Linked DNA regions of Homo sapiens. The gene in region 1 interacts genetically with each later gene. Each region holds a gene or a part of one and is shown on either strand. Other genes may lie near its edges. The genes, in order: TIMM9 and MAPKAP1.

Evidence for each region.
Region 2: changes in TIMM9 (region 1) and MAPKAP1 together harm fitness more than expected from each alone (negative genetic interaction), as found in Homo sapiens cells (one large-scale study listed by BioGRID).

The regions. Positions count from the first base shown.
Region 1 is NC_000014.9:58,414,032-58,417,851, reverse strand, and holds part of TIMM9 (mitochondrial import inner membrane translocase subunit Tim9), read left to right. Parts: intron 1-771; exon of another isoform or gene 772-806; coding exon of another isoform or gene 807-809; intron 810-3,820. UniProt on the Homo sapiens protein: Mitochondrial intermembrane chaperone that participates in the import and insertion of multi-pass transmembrane proteins into the mitochondrial inner membrane.
Region 2 is NC_000009.12:125,700,633-125,704,452, forward strand, and holds part of MAPKAP1 (target of rapamycin complex 2 subunit MAPKAP1), read right to left. Parts: intron 1-3,820. UniProt on the Homo sapiens protein: Component of the mechanistic target of rapamycin complex 2 (mTORC2), which transduces signals from growth factors to pathways involved in proliferation, cytoskeletal organization, lipogenesis and anabolic output.

The DNA.
Region 1 (3,820 bases):
CTCTTGCTAGTAGGTTTGTCAGTTTTATTAATCTTTTCAAAGAACTAGCTCTTTCTTTTTTCTCTTTTCATTTAAATTGATCTCTGCTCTTTATTTCCTTCATTGGGTTCATTTTGCTCTTCTTTTTTAGGTGCTTGAGGTAGGAGGAGCTTGGATTACTGATTTAAGACCTTCCTTCCTTCCTACCTTCCTTCCTTCCTTTCTTCCTCCCTCCCTCCCTCCCTCCCTTCCCTCCTTCCCTAAGTCCCTCCCTCCCTCCCACGCTCCTTTCCCTCCCTCCCACGCTCCTTTCCCTCTCTCCCTCCCCTTTCTTCCTTCCTTACCTCCACTTCCTTTTTTTTTTTTTTTTTTTTAACAGGGTCTTGCTGTTTTATCTGAGCTGGAATGCAATGGCATGATCATAGCTCACTGCAGCCTTAAACTCCTTGGCTCAGGCAATCCTGCCTCAACCTCCAAGTAGCTGGGGGTATAGGACATGCCACCATGCCCAGCTACTTTTCTTTCTTTTCTCTTTTCTTTTCTTTTCTCTCTTTCTTTTCTTTTTTTGGAGAGAGAAGGTATCACTATGTTGCCCAGTGTATTAGTCCATTTTCACACTGCTGGTAAAGACATACCCTAGACTGGGCAATTTACAAAAGAAAGAGGTTTAATGGACTTACAGTTCCACATGGCTGGGGAGGCCTCACAATCATGGCTGAAGGCAAGGAGGAGCAAGTCACATCTTACATGGATGGCAGAAGGCAAAGAGAGAGAACTTGTGTAGGGGATCTCCTCTTGATAAAACCGTCAGATCTTGGGAGACTTATTCACTATCATGAGAACAGCATGGGAAAGACTTGCCCCCATGATTCAATTACCTCCCACCAGGTCCCTCCCACAACACTTGGGAATTCAAGATGAGATTTGGGTGGGGACATAGCCAAACCATATCACCCAGGCTGGTCTTGAACTCCAGAGCCCAAGGAATTCTCCCACCTCAGCCTCCCAAAGTGCTGAGATTACAGGCATGAGCCACGACACCTGGCCTTTTTCCTTTTCTAATGTATGCATTTAGTACTAAAACTTTTTCTCATGGCACTGATTTAGTTTATCACCATGTAATGATGTCAGCATATTACCAGTTCAAGTGAAGTATAGAAACCTTAATTGTCTACATACATTTAGAACCACAATAGATGGTTTTATAATTTTTGCTTCAACCGACAAACATAATTTAGGAAACTCAAGAGAAGTGTATTGTACCTATTACTGTGTTTTCCTCCTTGATGTTCCAGGACTACTACTTTTATCATTTTCTTCGTTTAGAAACTTGAGCGATTATTTTAGGTAGCTATGCTGGTAACACATTTTCTTAGTTTTCCTACATTTGAGAATGTCTTGATTTCTCCTTTATTTCTCAAGGTTGTTTTCACTAGATACAGGTTTCTGCATTGACAGTTGTTTTCCTTTAGCACTTGAAACATTTTGTGCCACTTCCTTGTGGCCTCCATAGTTTCTAAAGAAAAATCTGCTTTCATCCTAATGGTTTTACCCCTACAGGCAAGATATAGTTTTTCACTTGCTGCTTTCAATGGCTTTTTGTCTTTATTTTTTATTTTATTTATTGTTATTTATTTATTTATTTGCTACAGAGTCTCACTCTGTCACCCAGGCTGGAATGCACTGACATGATCTTGGCTCACTGCAACCTCTGCCTCCTGGGTTCAAGCAATTCTCGTGCCTCAGCCACCTGAGTAGCTGGGATTACAGGTGTGTGCCACCACGGCCAGCTGCTTTTTGTATTTTTTTTTTTTTTTTCAGTAGGGACGGGGTTTCACCATGTTGACCAGGCTGGTCATGAACTCCTGACCTCAATCGACCCACCCGCTTTGGCCTCCCAAAGTGCTAGGATTATAGACGTGAGGCACTGCGCTCAGCCTTGTCTTTAGTTTTCAGATGTTTGACTATTATGTGTCGATGTAGGTTTCATCGGGTTTATGCTGTTTGGGGTTTGTTCAGCTTTTTGAATCTGTAGGTTTATGTCTTTTGCCAAACTTGGGGAGTTTTCAGCCATTATTTCTTCCACTACTTTTACTACCCTACCCTTTTCTTCCTCTCCTTCTTGGACTCTAATGAGACAAAATATTCACTTTTTTATACTTCTACAAGTCCTTTGTACTCTGTTAATGTTTTTCATTCTGTTTTTCTCTGTAATTCAGGTTGAAGAATTCTATTTTCTGGCTTCCAATTCACTGATTCCTCTGTCCCCTCCATTCTCCTATTGATTTTATTCATTGAGTTTATTTTGGTTATTGTATTTTTCACTTCTTAAACTTTCCATTTGGGTCTTGATATCTTCTATTTCTTTGCTGAGACCTTCTGTTTTTTCATTTGTTTCAAGTGTGTTCATAATTGCTCACTGAAGTATTTACAAGGTGCTATTTAAAAATCTTTGTCAGATAATCCTAACACATATTAATCAATGTTGAGCATCTGTTGTCTTTTTTTAATTCAGTTTGAGATCTTCCTAGTTCTTGGTGTGATGAGTGATTTTTTAATATATTGTAGCCTGGACATCTTGCATATCATGTTATGAGGCTCTAGATGTTATTTAATCATTTTATCTGGCTCCTTTTGACAATGCTCCATGAGGGGAAGTGGTGGGAGGTACCACTTCATTACTGCCAGGTGGAAGTAGAAATTCATCTTCCTCACTCTGACACTTGAAGGGAGGGGCAGGGAGTTTCTTGTTACTGCTAGGTGGAGTAGGCATTCTGGCTCCTCACCAGGCTTCCACTGATAACTCCCTGGCTGGGAAGGACTACAGTGCTTTGTTACTCTCCCCATGTGGCCTCCACTGACATTACAGCAGGGTACATGGCCTAATTGTCATGAGGCAGTAATGCAAGTCCTGAATGTCAAGTAGGCCTCCTTAGATACCACCCCAGAGTAGATGGAGATGGGTACCTCATTACTGCCAATTGGGGTGGAAAGCCAGGCTCCCTGTGTGGTTTCCACTGACACTCGCTGGGGAGTGGGGAGGCTTTTCTGTGCATACGAAGGAAATGACATTTTTTTAAATGTCAGTAGTTATTGTGAATTTCTTTCTTTCTTTTTTTTCTTTTTTTTTTTTTTTGAGATGGCGTCTCACTATGCGGTGCAGGCTGGAGTACAGTGCTGCAATCTCGGCTCACTGCAACCTCCGCCCAAGGGGTCAAGCAGTTCTCCTGCCTCAGCCTCCTGAGTAGCTGGGATTACAGGCATAAGCCACCATGCCCGGCTAATTTTTGTATTTTCAGTAGAGATGCGGTTTCACTATGCTGTCCAGGCTTGTCTCCAACTCTTGACCTCAGGTGATCCACCTGCCTCAGCCTCCCAAAGTGCTGGGATTACAAGTGTGAGCCACCGTGCCCAGCCTAGTTATTGTGATTTTATAGGATAAGAAAAAAGGAGGAAAGTATAGGTATGGTTGAGACTGGTGGAATGGAATTACTGTTGATTGTATGTGTTAATCAAAAGCAGAATGTTAATTTTTTTTTGTGATGGTGGCATACACTTTGTCCTAAACTTGAATTTACTACTAGTTTCAACGAACTTCATAAAAATTAGTTTCAACAAAGCTTCATAAAGAATTTATGTTTTCCAGAGATACTTTAATAATTGATAAGCTAATAAAAATTTGCACATCCAGTTTATCATTTTTGTTTTGGTTATCAGAAAACTCTTAACTAAATAAAATGTATAGCATTTATGTTAGTCTACAGTGTACATGATTCATGTTTTCCTTTTACATGCTGTTTAATTTCTGTTTCAAACAGCTTTATTTTATACAAACCTTTTT
Region 2 (3,820 bases), on another chromosome or scaffold:
TATATTAAATCCATTTCCCCAATATATCTAGACTGCTGCCAACTAGAGTTAATAAATTTTGAATGACTGCTCAGGATTTATTCCCTTTATTTTTATATTCTGTTATTTCCTTATACAATAGAGTATGAATGAAAACAAGTATCTACAAGACCAGTATTTCTTCAATTTTCACCTTGTGAAAGCTGGGTATTAAAATAAAAATAAATTAAACTCTTGGGCTGGGAACTCCCTGACCATATTTCTCTCACTGTGCTGGGTGTCTCTACGCCCCCTTTCAATCTTGAGTACATATAGTCAATAGGCACTGCATGCACTGGGGGAGCACCTGGCCCATCAAGGGCCTTTCCCAGAGGAAGTAATGAATAAAGAACAGATGAAGAGCTGAGTAGTGGTTCCTGACCTGCCAGCAAGAGAGGAGGGGCAGCATTTTAGATTTGAGTCATCTCCACTGGAGTCTGCCAGTAATCAGTTGTGTGACTTTAAGCATATCAATTAGAAACAGAAAGCTTGGCATCCCGAAAAGAAAACCATTCCTTCAATTTTCTACCAATTTCTCTGCTGAAATGGTACTTATTTGTAACACAGTACCTTAAAATGAGTCCGCAGGGAACTGGAAAATGTTATTTTTTTGAAGTTTTACACATTCAGTATACTTTGCATCAGTAATAAAAGTATATTAGTAAAAGTATACTCAAGTATAGGATATTACGAATTGAATTTCAGCAAGACTTGAATTTTACTCCTCATTATTTATCCAAAAAGGAAAAAAGATCCGAGGATTTGTAAGTGACGTGACCAAACTCCAAAGGCTGTTAGCGGTATCCGCATATTCAGGATGCAAATCACTCTCTAGTCAACTGCACTTGCTACTAAACTGTGATTCACTGGCTGTTAGTGGTATCCGCATATTCAGGATGCAACACCCTCTCTAGTCAACTGCTCTTTCCACTAAACTGTGATTCACTGGGTGCCGATTTCTTCATCTCAAGAGGTGATGATTACCCCCTTTGTAATACTACCTATCTCATAGGACTATGAAGACTAAAGAAAATAAGGTATACAAGAGCATTTAACAAATTTACCATACCACTTCATACTATTGTGGAGAGGGCCAAGAGACAAGAAATCTGGTAGCATTTAAAGTGCTAAGAGCACAAAATAGAAGTGTTATAAGGTCATCTCACCAGCCAGATCTATACTTTAGCTTGATTATACAATAAAAGCATTGACCTTGCCACTCTCCAAAACTATCAGCGCAAGCTACAATGCCCCCTCACACTGGCAATTTACCATGAGATTTCTAATCAATAATCAAAACATTGTATTGTATACTTCCTGCTCTGAACAACAGGTACCAAAATTTCAGCAGCCAGGTAGGTTGGAGTTCACAATCAGGCAGCCTAGAATTACACTCAGCCCACAAATATGTTTTGATCAACATAATTTTTAATGGCAAATTTTTAAACTAAATACATTAAAATCCACGACATGCAGTGGCTCACACCTGTAATCCCAACAATTTGGGAGGCCATGGCAGGAGTATCATTTGAAGGCAGGAGTTCAAGACCAGCCTAGGCAACATAGATAGACACCATCTCTACAAAATTTTTTTAAAAATTAGGCCGGGCGCAGTGGCTCACGCCTGTAGTCCCAGCACTTTGGGAGGCCAAGGCAGGTGGATCACCTGAGGTCGGGAGTTCGAGACCAGCCTGACCAACATGCAGAAACCCCGCCTCTACTAAAAATACAAAATTAGCCAGGCGTGGTGGCGCATACCTGTAATCCCAGCTACTCAGGAGGCTGAGGCAGGAGAATTGCTTGAACCCAGGAGGTGGAGGTTGCAGTGAGTCAAGATCGCGCCATTGCACTCCAGCCTGGGCAACAAGAGCGAAACTCCTTCCCACAAAAAAAATAAAAGCAACAACTAGCTAGTACATGGCCGGATGCAATGGCTCACCCCTGTAATCCCAGCACTTTGAGAGCCTGAAGCAGGCGGATCACTTGAGGTCAAGAGTTCAAGACCAGCCTGGCCAACACGGCAAAACCCTGTCTCTACTAAAAATACAAAAATTAGCTGGGCGTGGTGATGGGCACCTGTAGTCCCAGCTACTCAGGAGGCTGAGGCAAGAGAATCGCTTGAACCCGGGAGGCGGACATTGCAGTGAGCCAAGGTCATGCCACTGCACTCCAGCCTGGGCAACAAGAGCGAGACTTTGTCTCAAAAAAAGAAAAAAAAAAAAAACTAGCTACACATAGTGGCATGCGCCTGTAGTCCTAGCTATTGGGGAGGCAGAGGTGGGAGGATCACTTGAGCCCAGAATTCAAGGCTGTAGTGAGCTATTACCACGAAACTGCACTCTAGCCTGATAGGACGATACCCTGTCTCTAAAAGTTAAATAAATAAATAAGAATAAATTAAAATCCAGATTTCCAGCATCTTTTCCAAAAAGTGTCAAAAGATCCAAGGACACTGGGCCCACTTCCTCACATGGCAACAAGCAAGTGGAGCTGAGCAGCAACTGCTCCCTTTAGTTTGGGCCCGTGCTCTCCAGTTCATCAAGGCCCAGCCTACTCATCCTAGTACATAACAGGCATCGGACTTGGAGACCACTGAGGAAGATGCTCAAACAGAACAATAATAATAATTTAATGAAGATTTGTTTACTCTTTTTTGGCCAGTTTTTTGTGGCTCTATCACACATTAGCTCTGTGACTCTTAAGTAACATATTTAACCACTAAGCCTCTTAAATTTAACACAAGCTGAAATATGCTGACTTCTGAGTCAAAAAACTTCACAAAAACTTCGAACTCACAGAAACAAGTCAGGGCACCTCCCATAGGGAAAAAACGTAATGTGGCCACGAATGGTGGCTCACGCCTGTAATCCCAGCACTTTGAGAGCCCGAGGCAGGCAGATCACTTGAGGTCAGGAGTTTGAGACCAGCCTGGCCAACACAGCAAAACCCCGTTTCTACTAAAAACACAAAAATTGGCCAGGCGTGGTGGCACCTGCCTATAGTCCCAGCTACTTGGGAGGCTGAGGCAAGAGAATCTCTTGAACCCAGGAGGCAGAGGTTGCAGTCAGCCAAGATCATGCCACTGCACTCCACCCTGGGTGATAGAGCAAGACTGTCTCAAAAAAAAAAAAAAAAACAAGTAACGTGACAGAAGTCCTTGTCATATAATAATTTGACATCTACAACTGCGTCCGTAACAGTAAGGCCTATACATCAGAATAACAGATTGCCAGCAAATTATCTTAGGCTGAATCATATAAATCCACTCAACTGCAAAAGTTTCTGAAGTCTTCAGGTATAAGTCAATAAGCAAAACAAGCTCCCCCACCAAAAAAGAAAAACATTTAAAGTAACAGATAAGGCTATGAGCTCCTTTAGTGCAAAGGCCACTTCCATTCCTCGTGATCCCTCCTGTCTCACAATGACTGGCACACTGAAGCTACAGCTCAAGGGCAAGTTTCTCTCTGAAGCCTTTCCAGAGGGTCCGCATCCACATCACAAAGAACAAGCAACATGGTGTAGTAATGAAGAGTGCCGATCTCAGTGTTCAGCAGATAATCCCCTCTATCTTACAGCTCTACCAGCAGCATAAACTCAAGGAAGTTATTCAAGGTCTCTGTGCCCCAGTTTCCTCATCTGTAAAATCAGGATGCTAATAACACCTTCTCACACGAGAAAAAAATGAGATAAAGCATTTAACATCACACCAGCAGAGTAAGTACTCATTACCTACCATCATCAGTGTTTCCTTCTCAGTGTTCTATGGTACCTCCTGGGGACTTCTACCTTAGAACCCACAGTA